Linked DNA regions of Homo sapiens. The protein of the gene in region 1 purifies or fractionates together with the protein of each later gene. This does not show direct contact. Each region holds a gene or a part of one and is shown on either strand. Other genes may lie near its edges. The genes, in order: ARRDC1, KCTD5, CUEDC1, YAP1, KCTD17, GLMN and NEDD4L.

Region 1 (3,500 bases):
GATCAGAAGATCATGGCTGGACAATCAGGTCCAGCAGAAGCTGGTCACAAGGGAGGACAGACGCAGCAGAAGTACACACAGCACAAGACCCAGGTGGGCAGGGGTTGGGGGAGACAGTGGCAGGCCACCTGCACCTCCAGCCCCTCTTCTCCCTGCAGGGCTGAGTCAGGGCCAAAGATGGCCACCTCCCTGCCTGGTCCTGGTGGGGGTCACGTGAGGAAAAGGTGACTCAGACTCTGACACCTGCTGAGGGAGCAGCCAGGCAGGAGGAGTACCGGTGTGCCGAGCGCCCAGGGTCAGCCATACCTGCCTCACCTGTGGTCTCCCCAGCAGGCCCCACCTGTGGCCCAGGCCTTCTGCCTGCCACCCAGAGCAGCAGGATTCCTCTCACAATCCTTGGCTCAGCCGCAGCCCCACGTGGCTCTCCACATGCATCCTGCCTACCCCTCGGCAGCTGCCAGGCCCAGTCCCCCATCCCTGAGGGTGGCCCTTGCTTCCTGCTGCACGCCCTCTACCCCCGGGCGCTGCCAGGGCCTGTCCTCAGCCTCCATTCCAGCCCAGCCTTGCCACCCCAACCTCGGTCCATTTTTTGTTTTTTTGTTGTTGTTGTTGTTGTTGTTGTTTTTGAGACACGGTCTCACTCCCGCCGCCCAGGCTAGTGTGCAGTGGCACGATCTCGGCTCACTGCAGCCTTAACCTCCTGTGTTCAAGCGATCCACCCATCTCAGCCCCGCAAGTAGCTAGGACTACAGGCACGTGCCACCACACCTGGGTTTTGTTTTTTGTTTTTTGTTTTTCTTATAGAGACAGGGTTTTGCCATGCTGTCCAGGCTGGTCTCAAACTCCTAAGCTCAAGCAATCCACCTGCCTCAGCCTCCCAAAGTGTTGGGATTACAGGCATGAGCCACGGTACCCAGCTCTGCTCTGATTTTGAATCCATGCTCTGTTAGCCAGGCCCTCCTCGGGCCAGACCCCATACTGTGTTCATGCTGAAAATCCGGAACACCAGTAATCCTCCTGTGGACCAGCAGACAGCCCAACAGAAGCACATGGGCATGAGCAGGCACAGAGGAGGGTGGGCGTGGCTGAAGCAAGGAGAGGAGGCCTGGGGACTGGAAATGCTGCCGTGCTTTTAACACTCCTGACAGACTGCACATCCCCACCTTGAATCCCGCAAATGCTGGGACCCAGCTGGGTGCAGTGGCTCACACCTGTAATCCCAGCACTGTGGGAGGCCAAGGCGGGTGGATCACTTGAGGTCAGGAGTTCAAGACCAGCCTGGCTGACATGGTGAAACCCCATCTCTACTAAAAATACAAAAAAGGCCGGGCACGGTGGCTCATGCCTGTAATCCCAGCACTTCGGGAGGCCAAGGCAGGCAGATCACCTGAGGTCAGGAGTTCCAGACCAGCCTGACCGACATGGAGAAACCCCATCTCTACTAGAAATACGAAATTAGCTGGGCATGGTGGCACATGCCTGTAATCCCAGCTACCAGGGAGGCTGAGGCAGGAGAATCGCTTGAACCTGGGAGGCGGAGGTTGCAGTGAGCCGAGATCGCGCCACTGCACTCCAGCCTGAGCAACAAGAGTGAAACTCCATCTCAAAAAAAAAATACAAAAATTAGCCAGGCATGGTGGCACACGCCTGTAATCCCAGCTACTTGGGAGGCTGAGGCATGAGGATCACTTAAACCCAGGAGGCAGAGGTTGCAGTGAGCTGAGATCGCACAAATGCACTTTAGCCTGGGTGACAGAGCGAGACTTCATCTCAAAAAGAAAAAAAAAAGAAAAATGCTGGAACCCACAGAGGATGCCGGAAAGGGGGCAGTGGTCCCCAGACTAACCCGTATGCCAGCCAAGCACCCTCAAGTGATCCCAGCTGGTGGCACAGAACTGAAGATTAACCCTGCCCTCACTGTCCAGATTCCTAACCCACAACGCTGTGAGATATAATAAAATGGTTGTGTTAACTGTTTTAAGAATGGTGTCTGACTTGAGGTGACCGCGACTTTTACGTAGCAGTAGGTAACTGGAACAGATGTCCAACCTCACTAGAAATTACAGAAAACCCGGCCGGGCGCAGTGGCTCAGCCTGTAATCCCAGCACTGTGGGAGGCCGAGGCGGGCAGATCACGAGGTCAGGAGATCGAGATCATCCTGGCTGACACGGTGAAACCCCCGTCTCTACTAAAAATACAAAAAATTAGCCGGGTGTGGTGGCGGGCGCCTGTAGTCCCAGCTACTCAGGAGGCTGAGGCAGGAGAATGGCGTGAACCCGGAAGGTGGAGCTTGCAGGGAAAGCCCAAATGACCTACCATTTCAATCCATCAGATTGACAAATATTAAATGTCTCGACACAGCTGGGCGCAGTGGCTCACGCCTGTAATCCCAACACTTTGGGGGGCCAAGGCGAGCGGATTGCTTGAGGCCAGAAGTGTGACAGCAGCCTAGGTAACACGGTGAAACCCCATCTCTACCAAAACTACCAAAGATTAGCTGGGTGTGGTGGCGCGTGCCCCTGGTCCCAGTCACTCAGGAGGCTGTGGTGGGAGCCCCGGAGGAAGGAGTTGCAGTGAGCCAAGATTGTACCACTGCACTCCAGTCTGGGTGACAAAGTGAGACCTCATCTCAAATAAAATCAATGTCTTGGGGCCAGGCACAGTGGCTCACGCCTGTAATCCCAGCACTTTAAGAGGCTGAGGCGGGCGGATCACCTGAGGTTCGGAGTTCCAGGCCCGCCTGACCAACACGGAGAAACCCCGTCTCTACTAAAAATACAAAATTAGCCAGGCCTGGTGGCGCGTGCCTGTAGTCCCAGCTACTCGGGAGTCTGAGGCAGAAGAATCACTTGAACCAGGGAGGCAGAGGTTGCGGTGAGCAGCTGAGATTGCACCACTGCACTCCAGCCTGGGTAACAAGAGCAACGTAAATAAATAAATAAATAAATAAATGTCTCAACACACGTTGGAGGGAGGTGGAACACAAACACCCCTTATTCCAGTCAAACTGCAGACAAGTACGAGGTTCTGGCAAAGAGTGGGACAGGTCTACTGTAATTTTACCTGTGCATACCAGGAGACCCAGAATTCCGCTTAGAATCTCATGGTATTTAACCGGGAGCCTCACACGCCACTGCTCCTACTAGCAAAGCATCGCGAAAACCGTCATGGGACATTGACTCCACAAAAACAAACAGTATGCAACTGACCCTTGGGTCATCCTAAGGGTCCAGGTTCTGTGATCTTCCCAACGCCCATGCAGATGGCCCCGTTTTGCACATACACCAAGGCTCTTTGAGATGACTCTGCCAGAGTAAGCAGCCTCCAACCACTGTCCAAAGTGAAACCTGTCCCGAGCTGCCCCACACACTCCTCAGTAAGAACACGGGAGGCAAGGGGCTCCCGCACAGCTGCCAGCTGCTTCCCTGCCAAAACACCTGGAGCTGCTCCTCTGCCTCTCAGCAACTGCTTCAGGTCAGGCTGGGTGAATTTCCCAGGG
Region 2 (3,500 bases), on another chromosome or scaffold:
TCCACGTCTGCTCCGCACGCAGCAACCGTGCAGCCCTGAATTCATCGGTCGGGAAAGGCTCTGGCAAGCAGGGCCCTGAGAGCCAGTGCCAGACGAAGCTCGCTCCCAGCTACCAGAAAAAGGCTCTTGAACTTGCGCGGCAGCCTGGACTTGGGCCTCCCGAAGGCTGAGCTGCTTCCTAAAACTCCATCCACCTCCTAATCCCCCACCTGCCTGGCACGCTTGCTGTGCCCCTCCAGGCAGCTGTGGTCCTGGGAGTGATGGTGAGCCACCAGGGCCGCCCGCCTGCATGGAGCTGCTCCCCAGTGGGCGGGGTGGCCCCACATCCTGGACAGTCACTACGGAGGACTCAGGCTGCAGACGGGGCTGGACGGAAACGCAGCAGTGAGAAGGGGTTCAGAGGTCCTGGGTCCCTGACCTTAAGGTGGTGACTCATGCCAGGGATGCCTGAGTGACAAAGGCACACAGTGGCCTCGAGGTCACATGCCCGAGTTGCTTTATTCTGCAAGACAGTGAGATGCTACTGTGTCACAGCAAGGCTGGACCGCAGACTCTCCCACCTGCACCATTTCCTGCCCACCTGCGTCATACAGGTAGGTAGACTGAGGCAGGGAGTGCCCACACAGCCCGGTCACACAACAGGGAAAAAAGCAGACTGGACAAGGTGACCCGGGGCGCGGGACGCAGCTCCTGCCCCACAGACAAGGAGCCCCTCCAGATCCCTCAGTGGCACCAAGGGAGCTCCAGCAGGAGGGGGAACTGGGCAAGTCGCTAGGTGGCCAGCGGCCCTGAGCGGCCAGGCTAGGAGCGTCTGCACAGGGCCCAGGGCTCTACGTGGACCGAGACTTCTGATGGCAGCCGCGGCCACAGTGCGGCACACACCCCACTCCTGGTGCCTTCTCAAGGGAGCTGAGCTTGGGTGGGGGGGGCGGGCTCAGCTCTCAGGGACGGGACTGATGCCCAAGGCCCAGCAGTGGCCCCTCCACAGGAGGTACTGGGCAGAGCCCACCAACAACCTGGGCTCCCCTGGCTGCAGAAGGGCCGTGCCAGCTGTGAGAGGTGTGTCTGTGGCGAGCCGCCCCTCTTCCCAATAAAACCAAGGTCCTTCTGGCGCCTGCGCAGACCCACACGACCCATCTGCTGTCTCCCTCCAGCCATGCTGGCTGCAGGCCCTTGGCACCCTCTGCTCCCTACCAGATGCCATCCACCTCAGGGTCTCCCCGACCGGCCCTCATGGGGCCCTCCTTCCCTACACACGTCTCCCGTGCCCAACTTCCTCAGAGCCATCCTTTGGGGGCTCCCAGAGTCTGGGCCGGGCAGGATGAATGGATCCTTCAAGGGACCCTGGGGAGAGCCGGGTAGACGGAGCTGGCAGGCACTGGGGCAGTGACAGAGGACAAGGGTCTCAGGGTAGGAGAGCCCCAGACCGCAGGACTTATTTGGGAGGCAGCCGGTCGGGGGAGTAAAGGGGAGCCCTTCCTTCACACCAGCCATACAAGCTTCCAGCCTCAGTCATTTGTCTCACCTGCGATGTTTTGCTGTCTCGTTCTCTAATTTTGTCCTTTACAAGTTTTATTAATGAGGTGATATTGTAAAATTCTGCTTCCTCCAACACTCCTGGAATAAGGAAAAATAAATTGTCTTTACCAGACCAAACTAAACCAAAGAATCCACGCTTTACACCCACCCCTGCCCTTGCCCCTGCCCCTGCAATGAGGGCCCATGGCTCGGCCCAGCGGGAGCTGCTCAGGCCCCGACCTAACAGGCTTCCTGCAGACGTGTCAGCCCAGCAGGGCTCCTGGGATAATGGGCGGAGGGGCCGTGGTGAGAGGGCCGATGTGTGGACTGAACACCTCCAGCTCAGGTCACCCCAGGTAACCTTGAGTGACCTCCAGTGACCCGCCAGGTATGGAGCCGCTGCTTACATGCAGCTCAGCGTATGTCTACGCCGAGGCCATGGTATGCTGGGGGTTGGATCTGGCATTTTCCCTCCAAGCCTGGAGGCCGACGCTTCCTGCTGGGAACCTGCTCATGGCCACGCCACTGGGTGGGGTGCTGTGTGGGGCTCAGGCCTGCGGCCTTGTGCATATGTCTCAGTCACCTGGCACCTCAGTTGACCCCATTCAAAGGGAAGACTGTGGCTGGCTGAGAGGGTCACTTCCAGCTCTTCCCAAAGACTGCCATCCGTAATGTGCCGCACTTAGGGACTGCAAACCTCCCTTAAGAGCCTTAAGAGCAGATTCCACAGGTCCTGCCTCAGGGCTTCCTCATGGGTGGTCTTCATTCCTCCAGGACCCCAGAGGAACCCACATATGGCACATGGCAGCTCAGGACAACACCCAGCCACCTACATGGGACAGGGCCACGCAGGATAGAGACAAGGAGACGAGGGCCTCAGAGACACAGGCTTCCCGGCCCCGCATGGGTCCCGCACAGCCCCCTTCTCTAGCACCCAGGGCGTGAGTGGCTGCATCGGGGCGGGATAGAGGCAGACCGGTGAGCCTGGGCGGCAGGGCCTTGGTCTGTGTCTAGCGCCCGTTTCTGAGCCAATCCCACTAGGGGCAGAATGAGATAAAGCGAAGCCTCGACTCGAGCGGCTCCACGACAACACAAGCGGCTGCCCAAGCGACCAGAGAGAGTACATGTGAAAGACATTCCCTGCCAAAGAGACAGGAGTGGGGATCATGGCTCACAGCCTCAGAGCAGGGGCAGGGCTGGGCCACAGCCCCCGTCACTCCACGCCCCGCGTGAACTCGGAGGAGGCAGGCAGATGCCGAGGCCCAGAGGCCCAGAACAGAAACGGAGTCAGACGCTGCCCAGTGCAGACCGATGCGCAGACACGGACCCGGGGGAGCAGGGCCACGCCCGCACGCAGGTGCCCAGAAACCCTCAGCCTTCACGGCGAGGCCTCGAGCTGTTCTGAGCCAAGCCAGCACCGCAGCACACAGGCAGGCCAGCCTGGGCCCAACGCGTGTGGGCGCCGTCCCTGCACCACGATCACTCAGAATGGAACACGGCAGCTGGCAGCAGCAGGCACAGTCCAGGTGATGGCACAGAGACATTCACCACCCTTGGGCTGTCCTTGAGGGAGAGCAGGCCAGGGAACCAGGCCCTGAAGCACGCCGTGGGCATCACCGGGCATGTGCCTCACACACCCGCTCAGACCACCTCAGTCACAGCAGGGAGGAACCCCTCACACCCCTTGTGTCGCCAGCCGGAGCCTGGACAGAGGGAGCCCTCCAAGGAGCTGCAGCCAGGGAGGACCCCACACCCACAGGGTCCCCAGGCCTCCCTGTCCGGCAGCTGCGCCGCTGCCCGTGGCCTCAGCACCAGAACGTCGGCCCCAGCTTCAGAGTACAGGGCCTGCTCCTCCCTGGGGCCCCAGGCTGCAGGCATCTGTGTCTTAAGTGGAGCCCTTGGCACCTTTGTCGGGCCCTTGCCCCCAAAGCTAAGGCACCTGTGCCCAAAACTCGGCTTACCTTCCTCCGCGAGGTCTTTGT
Region 3 (3,500 bases), on another chromosome or scaffold:
GGTGCAGCGGTGCCGCAGGTGTCACCTCGAGAGTGCAGTCGGAGAGCGCCGCGGGTGAATGGGCCAGGCAAGGCAGGGGTACCCTAGGGATGCGACGCGGGGCTCCTGGGGACAAACCCTGCCCCAGGCCGGGAGGGAGGAGGGAGCAGGAGGGTCCAGCCCACGCCGCTGGCCACATCAGAGCACCAAGAGAACACCAACTGTTTATTACAGGAATTCCTATGAAACAGCTCCAAGAAAAAACCCACACATAGGAGGAAAAAAAATAACAAAGCAACACTCAACAGACATGGGGCTGGGGCTTCCCCCACAGTGCGCCGGGTCCTGGCGCGGGGAAGGCTCAGAGACCCGTCGAGAACTCGAGCTGGGGTACCGAGGCACTCCTCGGAGACCCCCCCCCCTCCCTCCAGGGCCCCAGGCCTGGCGCGGGGAGCAGCGGAGGGGGCGACCGCTCCTCGGCAGGGCCCCCCGAGCCAGCGTCCCGGCCCCGCGCGCGTTTCCAAACTTGGTCACGCTCGGCGGCGGCTGCGCGTCCCGGCCCTCCCCAAGCTCGGCGTTGCGAGTCCGGGCAGGGTGGGCGGGACGAGGTGCGATCGCCGGCTCGCCTTCGCTACGCCCTTGTGATCTTGGGGCCACGGAGGCCACCAGGGCCCGGCCAAGGATCGGATGCCACTCCCAACCTCCCAGAGCCGCGCCGAAGCCTCGTGCCTGCCCAGGCTTCCCGGCTCTCCGGAAGGTCTGCGCGCTCCCATGTCCAGGGCGGGGCCACGGGCTGGGCAGCCTCCCTCCCCGTGGCAGTGGTCAGTGCCGTGTAAGCGTTCCTAGAATCAGAGTTCTCCTCCTCAGATCACCCGCCCTTCTCAGGGGCACCCAGCAAGCCCTTATGCCCTAGGCGCTCACCCAGGCTGGCGGCCTTTCCGCCTTGCTCTTTAGCCCTGCACCTGCTCAAAGGGGTCACTCCAGGACCCACCGCTGCCCACCCTCGGACAGCAGGGCTTCCAGTCCAGCTGGGGAGTCAGAGCCCCTGTGAGCCCCTACTGTGGTGTGACTCCAGAACTGGCTTTTGTCTGCTGCCAAATTAAAGACCCTGCCTCCCCAGAGTCCTCCAGCTCCAGGGTGGCCACCCTCCCCATCCCTGCTGGGTGACCGGGAGCTGCTGGGAGTGAGCCCATCCCTAACAGCAGCAGCCTGATGAGGCCAGACGGGGCAGGGCAGTCGGCAGATGCTTTGCAGTAGCCCATAGCTCCTCAGAGTTCCTGGGGGACTGGCCAGGGACCTCCCACCCAGGCTGGGTGCAGGGCTCGTGTGCTGGGCCAGCAGCCCCGGGGGAAGGCTGAGATACAGGAGGACATGGAAGGGAAGGGCACAAGTGCCCGGAGGGAGCTGAGGAAGGGGGACCAGAAGGGAGCTGAGGAAAGGGGGTCAGGCAGAGTCTGTGACAGGAGAGATAGAGAACGGACGGAGGCAGAGACTCCACCTTCAGGCCAAAGAGCCTCTGGTGGGGGTCATCTTGCCCTTTTCCATATTCCAACTTTTATCTGCTTTCTGGATTTTTTTTTTTTTAAAGGGAGGTTGGTTCCTGCATTTCCACTCTTTGACCATAGGAACGCCTGGCTACAAAAGGGGCTGTAATTGGCTGCTGCCTATAGGGGCCCCAGGTCCTTCCTCCAATTGCAAGGCAGCAACTCCGAAGTTCTAAGTCCCATGGAAAGTGGCAGTGGTTGGGCTGGACTGTGGCTGGAGGATCACCGGGCCTCGGTTCTCAAGCACCATCTGTCTGGCTGCAGCTGGGCCCTTCAGCTGGGGGCCAGTGTTGCTTTCCAGCTGCCCCCACCGGGTCAGATCATCTCTGGCAAGGAAGAGCTGCTGGCATCTGGTAGGGGAAAAAAGGGATGGGAGGAATCTTTTTCAAAGGAGCCCAATGGTCTTTCCTGGTCACTGGTTCCTGGAGAGACAGTTTTGGGAGAAGTTACTAAAGACGTAAGCCCTCTCCTTTTTCCAGGGACTCGAGGTCAACCGTAGAACTCTGCCTGGGTCATCCCCCCATTCAAATTCCTAGAACCATTCCAGCTTGCCCAGCTGCAGGGACTCTGGCAGCAGGAGATGGAGTGAAGGAATGGAATCCCGGGGTGAAGCAGCTGTAGGGGAGGGCTTCAACGTGGGAGGGTACCTGGCCCATTCTAATACGTCATAGCTCAGGGGAGCTAGGCCACAAAGACCTGTAGGTGGAGAAAAGTAAACTGGGGGCAGAACTTGGTAGGACTCAGACACCAGGCTGAAGAGTTCCTAAGACTTTACTCAGAAGACTCATTCAGGCCAGGCGCAGTGGCTCACGCCTGTAATCTCAGCACTTTGGGAGGCTGAGGCGGGCCGAGGTCAGGGGTTTAAGACCAGCCTAACCAGCATGGTGAAACCCCGTCTCTACTAAAAATACAAAAATTAGCCGGGCGGGGTGGCACGTGCCTGTAATCCCAGCTACTCGGGAGGCTGAGGCAGGAGAATGGCTTGAACTTGAGAAGGGGAGGTTGCAGTGAGTGGAGATTGCACCACTGCACTCTAGCCTGGGCAACAGAGCGAGACTCCATCTCAAAAAAAAAAAAAAAAAGAAAGAAAAGAAAAAGAAAAAAAAAGATTCATTCAAAGAGCACAGGAAAAATGGAACTAAAGTGGTGTTTTGGTGGTGGGATAATCAGAGTAGGTAGGGGCAGTGAAGAGAACAGGGCTGTGACCTAGGTGATGAGCATCTATCAGGGTGGTAATGGAAGGAATAGAAAAGAGAATGAAAGGGGGCAGTCAGGAGGAGAGACTGAGTTGCTATCCAAGGCTGAAAAGAAAATCTTGGGTGCAGCTGGGGACACGAAGCAGCTCTGGAAGCCTAACTGCGATGGAGATTCAGATGTAGGAGCCAGATGCGCAGAAGTGTTGCTGGTGCTATAAAAGAGGGCGGAGGCACTGCCAGAGTGGGCAGTGAGAAGACTTCGAAGAGGGTCAAGGGCAGAGCAACAAGGAGAGCCAGTATTTAGGGAGTGGGCGGAGCAACAGGAGCCAGGAGAGAGGAAGGAGAACCTGGCTTCCTGGGGTCACAGGAGCCAAGGGAGGGCAGCTTCAGGAGAGATCAGGGGAGTGCGTGTGGAAGAGCACCATAAGAATGCAGAAGATGCTAAGGCCCTGAGCTGCTGGGTGACCTCCGAGTCAATCCGAGTGATGGGAGGGGCTGTCAGCCTGCAGTGGATGAAGGAGGATGGCAGGGAAGACTCAAGGACCCTTGGTGTTTAAGGGGAGGAGGAGGAGGATGTCAACTTGCAGAAGGAGCTGGAAGGGGACAAGCTGGAAGTCCTAGGACAGAAATAAATGATGAGGTGCAGGTACGGTGGCTCACACCTGTAATCCTAGCACTTTGGGAGGTCCAGGCGGGCAGGTCACCTGGGGTCAGATGTTCGAAACCAGCCTGGCCACATGGCAAAAATCCATCTCTACTAAAAATACAAAAACAAATTAGC
Region 4 (3,500 bases), on another chromosome or scaffold:
AGCATATAAATTTGTAAGTAAAAAATTAGAATCAGGCAATAAATGTCAGTAGACAATATGGAAAAGTTCCCAGGCAATTCCTTGAGAGAAGAAAATTCTTAATGTATAGGATGGGCCCAGCCTTGTGAGGTTTTGCTCAAGTAGTCTCCAAGAAGAAATGGCATTTACCAAGCAGCCAGTCTGTTATAATGGGACACATTAAAAATCACAAGGAGTTTGCTGTGTGACTGGGAGACCATTAAGTTATAAGAGCTGTCAGTGTATGTTATTTAGGATTTTTGTAGCAAGGTTTATATGAGAGATTGGCCTGTAATTTTCCTTTCTTTTAATATCCTTGTATGGTATCAAGGTTATGCTGGCCTTATAAGTGTTGGAAAGTATTCTTTCCTTGTTATGCTCTGGAAGAGGCTGTGTAAGACTGGTATTATTTCTTCCTTGAATGACTGCAAAGCCATTGGGACCTGGGGTTTTCTTTAGTCAATGTGTACTAAACATTTAGTAGAAACAGTGACCCAAAATTTCAACTTAAGTTGAATATGTATCTGAAAAGGTTTATTATTCTTACTAACATTTTCACATAAAACTTCCCTCTGCTCACTGAGGTTAATTCACAGTTTGATCAGTGTTGTATCAGTGACAGAAATTCACTAGTATAAAAACCCAGTCCATTTCTAACCACCAAATGGTGTATTACAGCTTCAAAAAAAAATTTTTTTTTTTTTACTACCTAGGCTTTGTGCTGGGGGTTACCATGGTGTCAAATGAGACAAATCCATGTCATCCAGATACTTGTGGACTCAATTTGATATGAGCAAGCATCAGATCATTTTAATCTACTTGCTTTATTGGGATGTGTATGTGGATATATTAAGGGCTGATTATTTTGATGGGCTTTGCTGTTTGGAATGCTTTGTCTTAATTTTTGTGGATGAATTTTTAATTTATATATTTCATAAGAAGTAATGAATTTGCATCATTCACACTTCAGAAGTTATAAATAAGGTTCTCCACCTTTGTCCTTTAGTCACCCAGTTTCCCATCTCTGGAGCCAAAAGATGTTAGTTGCTTCTTAGCTATTCATCAATTTTTATATCCTCTGAATATGCAATATATTCACCCCCGCTCCCTTCCCCCACCCCGTTTTTTTTAAACACTTTCTCTTCTGCACCTTGCTTTTAATTTAGTAAGTCCTTAGAAACTGTTCCTTATTGCATGTTAAAACTACGTCTTGTTTCTTTTCTCTTATGACTTCCTTGTATCTTGTGACAACAGTAATAATAAATTAATGTAGTCATTGTGATATTGATGGATTTTTAGGTTATTTCCAGTCTTCCTGCCCAAAAAAGTTACATCGAATATCCCAAATTGCTTTTGAATAATTAAATCATCATTTTATCTTCCTTCACTAGTTTTTTAGGACAGATTTTTTTTTTCTTTTCATTTCAGCCATGAACCAGAGAATCAGTCAGAGTGCTCCAGTGAAACAGCCACCACCCCTGGCTCCCCAGAGCCCACAGGGAGGCGTCATGGGTGGCAGCAACTCCAACCAGCAGCAACAGATGCGACTGCAGCAACTGCAGATGGAGAAGGAGAGGCTGCGGCTGAAACAGCAAGAACTGCTTCGGCAGGTGAGGCCACAGGTTAGAAACCAGCCTTCCACTTTTGGGGGTTTGTTTTCTTAAAGTTGGGCAGATTTCATTTTAACATTTATTAGTTACAGAGGAATGTTGTCTTTGTAAAACTGAGTGACACAGAAGCATTCTATCCAGCCCTGTCCTTGTCTTAGTTTTGTGACTGTGAATGGCCTTTGATCAAGTTACAAGGGATGTGACTTGGAAACCTGTATCATGAAGAGCTGTTTTGGTCATGGTCATTGCAATTGAGCAAAAATTGAAGGAAGCAAGGATGCTTTCTCTAATGTACATGGAATTGTGGATTGCTGTTTTTCTGAGGATTTCACTAAAGGGGAAATTCTAGAACATCACTCAGGAGAAAACATCCTTTATTAATAACTTACGTGGCGGGATACACCAATATGACATTTCTCAAATGACAAATATACTTCGGTATTACCGAATCTAAGAATTTTCATTGAAAACAAAATAAATGTTACCTTTGGCCAGGTGCGGTGGCTCATGCCTGTAATCCCAGCACTTTGGGAGGCCAGGGTGGGCAGATCACTTGAGGCCAGTTCAAGACAAGCCTGGCCAACTTAGCGAAACCCCATCTCTACTAAAAATAAAAAAATTAGCCAAGCGTGGTGGCACACACCTGTAATCTCAACTTCTCAGGAGGCTGAGGCACAAGAATCACTTGAGCTTCGGAGGCAGAGGTTCGGTGAGCCAAGATTGTGCCACCGCACTCAAGCCTGGGTGACAGAGTGAGATTCTGTCTCAAAAACAAAAAGTTATCTTCAAGTTTAGAAGATGCCAGTGTGCTTTAAAATTACCTGCTTATGGATGTTTTTTTATTTTGGGGAAAGTAGGACATAGTAGAGAGCTTTGAAGCCCTTTAATCACCAATTCCATCAGCTTTCTTCCAGAAGGTACTGTTGGTTTTTATGTTCCTAATATATATAATTAATCTCAACATTAATTTTTACTTTATCTTATTTCAGAGTGGTTAAATCTACTAAGTTCAGATATTGGAGATAAGGTCTTTTGTTAAGTAGCGTAGATATTTTTAAATTTCCATATAAAATTTTTTTGAATAGATAATAGAAAAATGGTATACTAGTGATAGATGTACAGAGGTGAAAGTACACTCAAAATAAGATCTTTTCCCTGTTTTTCTAGTTCTCTCCTATGGGGCCTAAATAACTATGAGTTTCTTAGGTTTTTTGTTTTTTGTTAATTTTTCCAGAGATACTCTGTTTACATACATAAAATACATGTATCTGTGCCATTTTTTCCCTAGCTAAATCACAGCATGCTAAGTATAGACATTTAAAAATCGTCATACTCGGCCAGGCATGGTGGCTCATGCCTCTAATCCCAACACTTTGGGAGGCCGAGGCAGGAGGTTTGCTTGAGCCCAGGAGTTCGAAACCAGCCTGGGCAACATGGCGAGACTCTGTCTCTTAAAAAAAAAAAAAGCTCTACATTTCTGTTACCAGGAAGGAGGCACCTAAAGGTCTGTTTTTTGTTTTTTGGGTTTTTTTTAGGGCTGTATTTTAAAAGTATCTCTTGAGTGTCAGTGAAAATATGTGAACTCAGTACTACCTGAACTCTGATTTGGGGTTTGAGGAATTGGTACTTCAGGAGTTAAATTAAGCCATGGCATCTGAGACAGGCTCACGTTGAAACTGTGCTTTGTCGGTAATCTGTCCATACAATTCTAGTGTGATTGGCATCAAAGGTAAACCCTGATAGAAGGAGTAAGACAGTATGTGCCAACATACGATGTCAGGAACTTGTTGGGGCTCAGAAAATGATACTCCAAAATATGGTTCTTTGACAAACTAAGGAAGCAGCCTCAAGTTCTATGCCAAAGCACAGGAT
Region 5 (3,500 bases), on another chromosome or scaffold:
CTTCTGCCTTGCAGTCTCCATGTGCCAGGGAACGTGTGGGTGGGCGTGGAGAAAGGCTAGCCAACCCCCTCTCCTTCTCTAAAGGCACTTTTGACCCTGGGCTCACTTTCTGGCTCTGCTCCTCTGGAAACCTGAAAGGTGGGAGGTCAGCTGCATGACTAGGGATAAAGTCCCTCGGGATAAGGATCTCCCGATGGGTAAACTGCATCTGGACTGGGAGGAACCACCGTTCACCATAAAGACCTCATGGGAAGGCACTGCTTTGGGCTCCCCTGCATGTTGCAATGCTGGCCACTGGGCATGTCCCCTGCGGAGACCCTGAAAACTGTGTCAGGAACTGCTATGATCGCATGATGCTGACTCTGAGTTCTAAGAGGTACTGACTCAATGTGGACTCCACTCACCTATGTGGATCTGGTCTCCTTGCACCTGAGCTGTCCTTCGGGGGCCACAGACTCACTCATGCCACCAGATAGATCACCACCCAGTTGCTGTGAGGACTCCCACCAACAAGGACACCCCGTGCTGTCCTATGGCCACTGGGGCTCCTATCCTCTCTCTCGGTCAACCTGCCACCAAGTGTGGTCTCTCCTAACCTTGTTTAATTTGATTTCAGAAGAACCCTGGGGTTGGGGGAGACTGTGGTGGGGAACCCAAGGCTGGGGCTGCAGGAAGGGAGGGGCCTGCTTGGTCAGAGGCTAGGAGGTCCCAGGGTTGTCCTGGTGGCACGCCCCTGTCCCCAGCGCACCTGCTCGAAGCGCCAGCCATCAGACATGGTGGAGACCATTTGCGTGAGCTCCTCCTCCTGGCACTGCAGCACGCGGTACACGTGCTTGGGTGGGACCTGTGGGCAGAAGGGTCACATAGAGGGCACCTGTGGGAGCACCAGGCACCCCAGGAGGGGCATGAGCACCTGCTGCCACCACCCCCGCAACATACCCAAAGAAGAAGAGAGGGAGAGAAAGAAGAGGTGGTTGGGGGGAGGCAGCCATGCTCTGAGCACCTGCTCCTCACCAGGCATTTACCAGGCACCATCTCACTTAATCCTTCCAAGAATCCTAGGCATTACGGGACTTTCCATTGAGGCTCAGAGAGGTCCAGTTACTTGCCCAAGGTCACCCAGCTCAAGGGTGAAGGAGACAGAACCGGAACACGGGTAATTCAAGAAAGAACATGGGTGGGGCTTAGGGAACATTCTGGGTCACCCTCAAGGAGTCAGGCCCTCAAGGAGACACGGAGCCTCCCCTCTTTAATCCCCTGGGCCTGAGAAATGGTTCCTCACTACCTGTCCCCCAACCCTCACACATCCCCCAGAGTAGGCGGAAAATCTCTTTCCCTCCTCCTGCAGACTGGCCAGGGAGGCCCAGGCTCCAAGGTCACAAACGCCAGCCCCAACAGCCTGTGCCGAGCCCACCAGGCGACCATCTGATGCCACAAAAGGCACAATTTGCTAATCCTGCATTTTCCTCTGCAGGGCACCCTGTACCTCCACACTGACCCCCTTCTGCCTATGAGGAAGGGATGGGTGTGCCATTCCCACCCCTCTCTATCCCATAAGAGAAAATCAAGGTCCGGAGAGGGCGAGCCTGGCCCAACACACAGCAAATGGGGCTGAGACAGGGACTGAACCCCAGTGTCCGTCTCCGAGTCTGGGGCTGTGCTGGGCAGCCTGTCAGCCCAACCATGCCTCTCCTTACAGGCCAGCTCGGCCTCCCCATGACAAACACTGGTCCTGTCTCTCCCAACCTCCTCTGCTTCCCGCCCCGTCTCTCAGCCTCTCTCTCCCCACTGGCCCCTGCCCTGGCCGTGTGTGCTGCCCCTGCTCCCGACCTGGGTGACCGTGTAGTCCTTCTCTTCCATCCGGTCTTTGATGATGCGGATCAGCGGGCCGATGTTGTAGAACTCGGCTTCCTCCAGGACCCCTGGCACAGACAGAACAGATCCCAGGTCACTCCTTCTGCCTCCATGCCCCATTCTCCTCTTGTTCCCTCCACCCCGAAACCCACCTCTCGCTCTGATCACCCGCCCTGAGGGTGAGCTGAGTGTCTGTGAGTTCAGGGGTCAAGTAAGAGGGAGCATTTCTTTCCTTGGATCCCACACTTCCTGTGGAAGGGGCTGAGGGGCTGCCACACAGCTCTGCTGTGCTGAGTGCGGTGACCCAGGGGTACCTGCCAGGCCACCGTCTGGGGCAGCTTTAGGGCTATCAAGAGACAGCAGGGTCATTGGGACTGATCCCCAGAATGTCACCATGAGCAGGGCCTTGCCTGACCCCTGATTATGTGCTCCTATTTATTAAGCACATTCTAAGTGCCAGGTGCATTACATTTTTGAATTCTCAGAACTAGAAGGAGGTACTTTCATCATCTGCATTGAACAACTGGGAAAACTGAGGCTCCCAAAGAGAAGCAGCTTGTCCAAGGTCACACAGCTGGTAAGTGCCAGAGGGAACTCAAGCGCTGCAGACTCCAGAGCCCATGTCTCCCCACTGTAAGCACATACCCTTGTGTCCATGCATTCCCCCAACTGCCTCACCTTACAGTTTGCAACACCCTGCACGAGCTCATCACAAGTCCAGGGATATGAGGAGAGCAGGCATTACTGTCCCCATCTTACAGTTAAGTTAATCTGGGAGATGAAGAAGTCAGCCCACCAGTGAAGCGATGAGCTTGCAGCTGTTTCGACTCCCCTAGGCTCCCAGAAGGCAGGGGACCTTTGGGCCCTTTCCTTGACTGGCCTCTGGGCTCCCTGGGGACAGAGCTCATTATGAGCAGAATGTGTGTGTTCCCCAAAAATCCACCTGCTGAAAACTGTGATGGGATTAGGAGGGGAGGTAATGAGATCATGGGGGTAGAGTCCCCAGGGTAGGATCAGTCTTCTTATAAGAAAGGCTAATTGGATGTGAGGGCGATCTGGCGGGGACATCTGTCACTCCACTGATCACCAGGGTTGATTTAGCTGATCTGGCTGGCTAGATGTGTGTCCCCTTCCTCCCTCACTGCTCCAGGTGTGTCCCTCCCGAAGCTGTGAGCTCCATCGAAGGGGGCGACCACCCCCGATAGAGGAGGACCGGACTTTGGTCAAGGGTATGTGAGTAGCTGCGCTCCCCTGCTAGAACCTCCAAACAAGCTCTCGAGAAGGGGCGGGCGAGGGCTAGCTCCCTCTCTTTCTGCCATGTGAGGACACAACGAGAAGTCAGCAGTCTGCAATCCGGAAGAAAGTCCTCACCAGAACCTGCCACAGTGCCCCGATCTCGGGTTTCTAGCCTCTAGGACCAAGAGAAATAAATTTCTGATTTTCATAAGCCACCCAATCTATGTTACTTCATGATTGCAGCCTGAAATGGCTAAGATGGGGCTCACATTTCTGATCTGCCCTCTGTCCCCGGTGCCCACACAGGACCAAACACAGAGCAGGAGGTCAGGGAGTGCAGCTGCCTGATTACGAGAATTATCCCCAGTGCCCTGGGCGGAGCCCTGCAGGTGACAGACAGCTAGCACTGC
Region 6 (3,500 bases), on another chromosome or scaffold:
ACATGCTCCTTTAGCTTGGAGGAGTTTGTTATTACTCAACTTCTGAAGCCTACTTCTGTCAGTTCATCAAACTCATTCTCTGTCCAGTTTTGTTCCCTTGCTGGCAAGGAGTTGTGATCCTTTGGAGAAGAGGTGTTCGTGTGCTTGGAATTTTCAGCCCTTTTCCGCTGCTTTTTCCTCGTCTTCGTGGATTTCTACCTTTGGTCTTTGCTGTTGGTGACCTTTGGGTGGAGTTTTTGCTTGGGTCATCCTTTTTGTTGACGTTAATGCTATTGCTTTGTGTTTGTTAGTTTTCCTTCTAACAGTCAGGCCCCTCTTCTGCAGGTCTGCTGCAGTTTGCTGGGGGTCCACTCCAGACCCTGTTTGCCCGGGTATCACCATTGGAGGCTGCAGAACAGCAAAGATTGCTGCCTGCTCCTTCCTCTGGAAGCTTCATCCCAGAGGGGCACCCGCCAGATGCCAGCCGGAGCTCTCCTGTATGAGGTGGCTGTTGACCCCTGCTGGGAGGTGTCTCCCTATCAGGAAGCACGAGGGGTCAGGGACCCATTTGAGGAAGCAGTCTGTCCCTTAGCAGAGCTCAAGCGCTGTGCTGAGAGATCTGCTGCTCTCTTCAGAGCTGGCAGGCAGGAATGTTTGTCTGCTGAAGCTGCACCCACAGCCACCCTTTCCCCAAGGTGCTCTGTCCCAGGGAGATGGAAGTTTTATCTATAAGCCCCTGACTGGAGCTGCTGCCTTTCTTTCAGAGATGCCCTGCCCAGAGAGAGGAGGAATCTAGAGCTTAAGTTTTTTTTCAATTTCCATTTCTATTTAAGATTCAGGGGTGCAGGTTTGGTACAGGGGCATATTGTGTAAGTTGTTTCTTTCTCTAAGATAAAACATATCCATGAAATATTTGCAGAGCCGGATGACTTCTATATGAATTAGAAGAAAGGGGAAACCTGGGTCTTGTTCATGGCTTTTTATTTCTTCATTACCATCACTGACTGTATTCTTTGCAGGGTTCCTGACTGTTCTGGCAATAAATTTCATTGTAGTGTAGAACTGCCTAGTCTTCCTTTTGTGAGAGAGATATGCTACAGTGAATTTTGAAATGTATAGTTTTAAGCCTTAGAACTGGAAATCAGTAAGCCTCCTTGGGTATGAAATTAAAAGCAGGTATTTGTGAACATTTCAAATTTTTAATTATAACTATTTTAAAACTCTTAATTTACTTTTTCTAGACACTGAAAGATTTTAAGAAATCTTAAAATGTGATTTTCTTTGTAGTATTTATTATTTCTTTAAAAACGATCTGGTAACCTTGAGAGAAAAAATATTCTTATTCTCACAGCTTCTTCACTCCTACATGCTTCTAAAAATATTACAGTTTATCATCTGAAAAATTTGTGGAATTATGCTGAACAGAATATGTAAAAAATTTCTTTAGGCTACTTTTGGCATGTGTTTTTATTACCTGAAGTTTTATGATTATGGGCTATTGCCATTGAAAACAGCTAAGGTTTTAACATTCAAAGATCTAGATTTGCACTGTCCAATACAGTAGACAGTAGACACATGTGACTATTTAAATTTATATTAATTTTTTTTTCCTTTTGAGTTGGGGTCTCACTCTATAGCCCAGGCTGGAGTGCAGTGGCGCAATCACGGCACATTGCAATAACAACCTCCTGTACTCAGGTGATCCTCCCATCTGGGATTACAGGCATGAGCTACTGCGCTGGGCCAGTACTCTTTATTAATATGTGATTATTTCCATTTGAGAAATTTGAAACATTAAAAGAAAACGTTTGGTTAGAGATACATTTGCTTTTTAAAGTCCTGATTTAGTAATTTGGTTAAAATTTTTGGCTGAAGAGAATTAGTGAAGCTTAATTGTATATTTGTACCAATGAATGATTATAAAACTTTATCACTGTAATCCCAGCACTTTGGGAGGCTGAGGCGGGCAGATCACCTGAGGTTAGGAGTTAGAGACCAGCCAGTCCAACATGGCGAAACCCCATCTCTACTAAAACTACAAAAAAATTAGCTGGGCATGGTGGCAGACGCTTATAATCCCAGCTACTCTGGAGGCTGAGGCAGGAGAATTGCTTGAACCCAGTAGGTGGAGGCTGCAGTGAGCTCAGATCATGCCTCTGCACTCCAGCCTGGGCAACAGAGCAAGAAGACACCATCTTAAAAAAAAAAAAAAAAGTTTTGGGAATCAGATTTAAAAGAATTTCCATTACAAAGTAAAACTGAAAGGATGAAAGAAAAAAATTTTCAACTTAGAACTTCTACAAGAGGAAAGTTTTTCATGGATACAAATTCTTTGGTTATATTTTTGCAAATATTCCAGTCTGTGGCTTGTGTTTTAATAGTATTTTTCAAAGAACAGAAATTTTAATATTTATGGAGTCCAACTTATCAATTTTATTCTTTTATGATTCATTATTTATGGGTTCTAAGAAGTCTTTGTTAACCCAGATCACAAAGGTAATTTCTTGTAGAAATTGTATAGTTTTAGGTTTTACACTTAGGTCAATGACCCCATTTCAAGTAAACTTTTTATGATATGAGATATGGGTTGAGAGATTTTTTTTTCTTTTATTTTGACCTCAACACTATTTGTAGAAAAGGTTATCCTTAATTTACTGAATTATCTTGGCAACTTTATCAAAAATCATTTTATAAGTATGGGTCTATTTTTGGACTCTATTCCATTTACCTGTATCTATTCTTTTACCAATACCACACTGTCTTGATTCCTTTATAGGAAGAAATTATTCTGTTTTATTCCTTTATAGGAAGTCTTGACCTCAAGTAATGTGAGTCTGCCAACTTTGTTCTTCTTTTTCAAAATTGTATTGGCTATTTTTAAATCCTTTACCTTTTCTGTATAAATTTTAGAATTTTGTCAATTTCTGCCACAAAGAGTTTTAATTCCACTTATGGCATTCTGGAAAAGGCAAAAATTACCTTAACAAAAATCAGATTGCTGGTTGCTGGAGGTGGGAGGAAACTGACTACAAAGGGGCACAAAGAAATTTCTGGGTCATGGGAATATCTTTACAGCAGCAGTGGTTACATGACTTTATATCACTATATATCTTTGTCAAAGCTCAGAATTGTATAGCTAGAAGGTTATATTTTACTGTATGTAAACAATATCTCAACAAACCTGACTTTGAAAAATAATAAAAAGAAAAGAACTAGGCTCAATAGTGAATTAGACTGAAATTACCTCATGAACAGGCAAGCACACTGATTATGTAAAAATCTTTCTGATGTTTACTTTTGAATTGTTTATTCTCCATTTTTCTACATTAAAGTATTAAGATTAAATGTGTTATATGGAAAGGATTTGAGGGAAAACTTTTATTTCAACTATATAAATAAACGTGTGAGTTGTGATGTAAAACCTAGTTTTTACTGAGAGTCATGGCAAAAATAATTTGAAAAACAGTATCCTAGAAAAACTTTTACCCCGTGTGAATGGGAAAACATACAGCAATGTAAAT
Region 7 (3,500 bases), on another chromosome or scaffold:
TGTGGGACACAAACACATTTTTTCCCCATTACTAAATAGTACTGAGTGCTTACTAAGCAAAGTAATTCTCTAAATAGATTAGGGTTACTTGCATTTTCTGAAAAACCAAAGTAACTTCCAGCATTAAGAAAAAAAGAACTTATACATGTAAATAAAACCCATTCAACACGAACATCTTCAATTAAACAAGAAAAATTAATAGAAAGGGTCTTCATCTCCTACATTACCTCTGACCCAAAGTCTGCCCTCACCGGCCTCCTCACATTAGTGACATCCAACACTCACTTGCCAAAACATAAAACTAAAACTTAACATCACATAGGTCAGGTAAAAGAAATGATTGGCTTTGCATTTTCCAACATTCATTCATAACAGATGTTCAAAGGGGACAACTCAGTGCAACCTCCGGTCAGCTAGGGCAGTGTTGGCCATGGTTCCCAAGTGCACTTCTCAGTATTACAACAATCTCAGCATTTACCCACAATGGGAATTCCAGCTTTACAACACACTTTTAAATATACATTATAAGACATGATCCAAAACTGCACCCAAGAGACGAAGAGCTAAACCTTGAGTCAGGTTGGAAACTGGAAATTAATTAGAATGTAAAAATTGTTGGCCGGGCACGGTGGCTCATGCCTGTAATCCCAGCACTTTGGGAGGCCGAGGCAGGTGGATCACAAGGTCAGGAGTTCGAGACCATCCTGCCTAACATGGTGAAACCCCGTCTCTACTAAAAATACAAAAAAATTAGCCGGGCGTGGTGGTGGGCACCTGTAGTCCCAGCTACTTGGGAGGCTGAGGCAGGCGAATGGCGTGAACCCGGGAGGCAGAGCTTGCAGTGAGCCGAGATTGCACCACTGCACTCCAGCCTGGGCGACAGAGTGAGACTCCATCTGGAAAGAAAAAAAAAAAATTGTTAACACAGGCAAGACCAGGAGCTGGAGATGCAAATCAGGCCCTTGTCACTGCACTTCTGGATCCCCTCAAAACAGGGAACACGGTCTCTGCCTGGTAGACAGGAGATGGAAACATGCCGGAGCCACTCAAGCAATCCATCTACATGTCACTTCAGTGTGCCTGGGAAACCATTGGTCCACTGCAGCCCAAACAAACAAAGTGACAGGTGATGGGACATCACCCAAACCAGCAAGAGGACAGTTCCCTTGGTTTGTTCATCCTCTTCATGGGACCACCATCCTTACAAGCCTTTCCAAGTTCCACCTTCACAGAACAGGTTTCACATCACAGCTTTTTTTTGAGACAAAGTCTCACTCTGTCACCCAGGGTGGAGTGCAGAGTTGCAATCTCAGCTCACCACAACCTCCATCTCCCAGGTTCAAGCGATTCTCCTGCTTCAGCCTCCCAAGTAGCTGGGATTACAGGGGCACGCCACGACGCCCAGCTAATTTTTGTATTTTTAGTAGAAACGGGGTTTTGCCATGTTGGTCAGGCTGGTCTTGAACTCCTGGCCTGAAGTGATCTGCCTGCCCTGGCCTCCCAAAGTGCTAGGATTATAGGCATGAGCCACCATGGGTGGCCACATCATAGCTTTTTAAACTTAAAAAAAAAAAAAAAGAAAAACTCACTTTTGAATGGCCCTTTTCTTTTGGTGAATAGGAGGTATAAAAAGAATACAAAATCTCTTGGTAGATGTCTGCCTGCCAAGAAGTCACCAAACACTGAATTTGATGACAGCAAGGGAATCTGAGAGCCTTGACATTTAACTTGGTGCGTTTTGAATCAATGCAGGACTGAAGTCAGGGACAAAAAGTTGACTGGAGTGTCAAATTTAAGCTAGTTACCCCAGATACACTTATATAATAAGGCTTTTCTCACCTAAAGGGATTACAATAATCAGCACTCCAGTTCAAAACAAAATATTACAATCATAGTGAGATTCTATTATTCATGAAACAAGAGGCCCAGATCTTTACATCGCCAACCACCAAACGCCCTGCTACAACTTCAGCCACGGTCTTGCATCAGGAATCAAGAATGTCTCTGCTAATCAAACACCAGTAGTTGTGATAATTATCAGCTCCTTCTCAGAGTAACAGAAAGTTACAGAAGGGTCCACACAGCAGAACTAGGACTATTTAGAAAGTCTCTACTAAATCTAAATCTAGTTTCTAGTTTTCTAAATCTAGTTTTTTTTATTCTCAACTCTAAATTATGCTATCATTTCCATATTCCAGCAACAAGCAACACCCGAGCCAACAGTAACATTAAACAGTGAACAGCACAAACATTGCCACCTATAGTCTGAAAATGAAATACATTTGAAATACAGTTGTGACCTGGAAGAGAAACAATGTAAAAACAGAAAGTAACATTTTGTCACACTTCTTCCACCCTTCTTTAATCCTCCTGCCCTGATACTTATTACCATTATATTATTTATATATTATTCTAATCCTCCTTAGCATGGACTACCAAAAGATCAACATATAGTTTGCTTTATCGCTAATTAACAAATATTTCAGTAAGACAGACCCACTTATTCAAATACCTGCAACATCAAAAAGCTTGAAAACTCTTAAGTTAGGATCTCTTTTTTTCACTGCTGCTACTCATCTAAGACTGGAAATTCAAGGGCAACAATAAAATCTGTTTAATGCAGATCTTGTAACTCAAAATAAAAAATTTAATTGGCTCTTAATCTATCACACATTGCCATGTTTTCATGATGCCATTTTAAACACCGCACAAGCAAACAGGTTATTAAATTAGCAATGGGCATAGTTGCTTCCTTTTGAAATGAATGCAAAAGTAATTTAGCAGAAACTCCAATGTACTGCTGCAATAATGTCACACTCAATCATTCTTAATATTTTTAAACAGTTTTATTCAGATGTAATTCATACACAACACAATTCATCCATTTGAAGGGTACAAAACTCAATGACTTTTAATATGTTGGGAGTTCTTCTTTGGGGTGATCTTTGTTTGTTTGCCTTTGTTTTCTGAGACAGTGTCTTGCTCTGTCACCCAGGCTGGAGTGCAGTGGCATGATCATGGCTCACTGCAGCCTCAACCTCCCAGGCTCAAGCCATCCTCCCACCTCAGCCTCCCCAGCAGCCAGGACCACAGGTGCGTGCCACAACACGCAACTAAGTTTTTGTATTTTTTGTAGAGGTGGGGTTTCACCACATTGCCCAGGCTGGTGTCAAACTCCTGGGCTCAAGCAATCTGTCCACCTCGGCCCCCCAAGATTATTCACTTTTCTTGGGAAAATATACCAGATATATTGAGGTACTCCAGAATCCCAAAACAAACTTTCCCAAGTAAGCTTCCTGGTGATGTGGGCACACACTGCATTGAAGAAATGCCTGAGTACCATGCAATGGTTTTCATTTGAATTGCATTCTGTAATGGTAAAGAAACTACAGTCATCTGAGGATCACCATTTGTCACTGTCCTCACCCTTTAAGCAAAACTATTACTATTCTTTTTTTATTTTTTATTTTTAGTTTTGCTCTTGTTGCCCAGGCTGGAGC

What was found.
Region 2: the proteins of ARRDC1 (region 1) and KCTD5 purify together in Homo sapiens (affinity purification with mass spectrometry; 3 studies listed by BioGRID and IntAct, with this or other methods). This does not show direct contact.
Region 3: the proteins of ARRDC1 (region 1) and CUEDC1 purify together in Homo sapiens (affinity purification with mass spectrometry; 4 studies listed by BioGRID and IntAct, with this or other methods). This does not show direct contact.
Region 4: the proteins of ARRDC1 (region 1) and YAP1 purify together in Homo sapiens (affinity purification with mass spectrometry; 5 studies listed by BioGRID and IntAct, with this or other methods). This does not show direct contact.
Region 5: the proteins of ARRDC1 (region 1) and KCTD17 purify together in Homo sapiens (affinity purification with mass spectrometry; 4 studies listed by BioGRID and IntAct, with this or other methods). This does not show direct contact.
Region 6: the proteins of ARRDC1 (region 1) and GLMN purify together in Homo sapiens (affinity purification with mass spectrometry; 3 studies listed by BioGRID and IntAct, with this or other methods). This does not show direct contact.
Region 7: the proteins of ARRDC1 (region 1) and NEDD4L purify together in Homo sapiens (affinity purification with mass spectrometry; 5 studies listed by BioGRID and IntAct, with this or other methods). This does not show direct contact.

What each region holds. Positions count from the first base shown.
Region 1 is NC_000009.12:137,608,686-137,612,185, reverse strand, and holds part of ARRDC1 (arrestin domain-containing protein 1), read right to left. Parts: intron 1-3,500. UniProt on the Homo sapiens protein: Functions as an adapter recruiting ubiquitin-protein ligases to their specific substrates. Through an ubiquitination-dependent mechanism plays for instance a role in the incorporation of SLC11A2 into extracellular vesicles.
Region 2 is NC_000016.10:2,696,023-2,699,522, reverse strand, and holds part of KCTD5 (BTB/POZ domain-containing protein KCTD5), read right to left. Parts: coding exon 3,480-3,500; intron 1,618-3,479; coding exon 1,526-1,617; intron 1-1,525. UniProt on the Homo sapiens protein: Its interaction with CUL3 suggests that it may act as a substrate adapter in some E3 ligase complex. Does not affect the function of Kv channel Kv2.1/KCNB1, Kv1.2/KCNA2, Kv4.2/KCND2 and Kv3.4/KCNC4.
Region 3 is NC_000017.11:57,861,413-57,864,912, forward strand, and holds part of CUEDC1 (CUE domain-containing protein 1), read right to left. Parts: intron 1,874-3,500; 3' UTR 1-1,873.
Region 4 is NC_000011.10:102,204,447-102,207,946, forward strand, and holds part of YAP1 (transcriptional coactivator YAP1), read left to right. Parts: intron 1-1,446; coding exon 1,447-1,628; coding exon of another isoform or gene 1,629-1,640; intron 1,641-3,500. UniProt on the Homo sapiens protein: Transcriptional regulator with dual roles as a coactivator and corepressor. Critical downstream regulatory target in the Hippo signaling pathway, crucial for organ size control and tumor suppression by restricting proliferation and promoting apoptosis.
Region 5 is NC_000022.11:37,054,742-37,058,241, reverse strand, and holds part of KCTD17 (BTB/POZ domain-containing protein KCTD17), read right to left. Parts: intron 1,923-3,500; coding exon 1,831-1,922; intron 845-1,830; coding exon 749-844; intron 1-748. UniProt on the Homo sapiens protein: Substrate-adapter for CUL3-RING ubiquitin ligase complexes which mediates the ubiquitination and subsequent proteasomal degradation of TCHP, a protein involved in ciliogenesis down-regulation.
Region 6 is NC_000001.11:92,250,488-92,253,987, reverse strand, and holds part of GLMN (glomulin), read left to right. Parts: intron 1-3,500.
Region 7 is NC_000018.10:58,050,726-58,054,225, reverse strand, and holds part of NEDD4L (E3 ubiquitin-protein ligase NEDD4-like), read right to left. Parts: intron 1-3,500. UniProt on the Homo sapiens protein: E3 ubiquitin-protein ligase that mediates the polyubiquitination of lysine and cysteine residues on target proteins and is thereby implicated in the regulation of various signaling pathways including autophagy, innate immunity or DNA repair.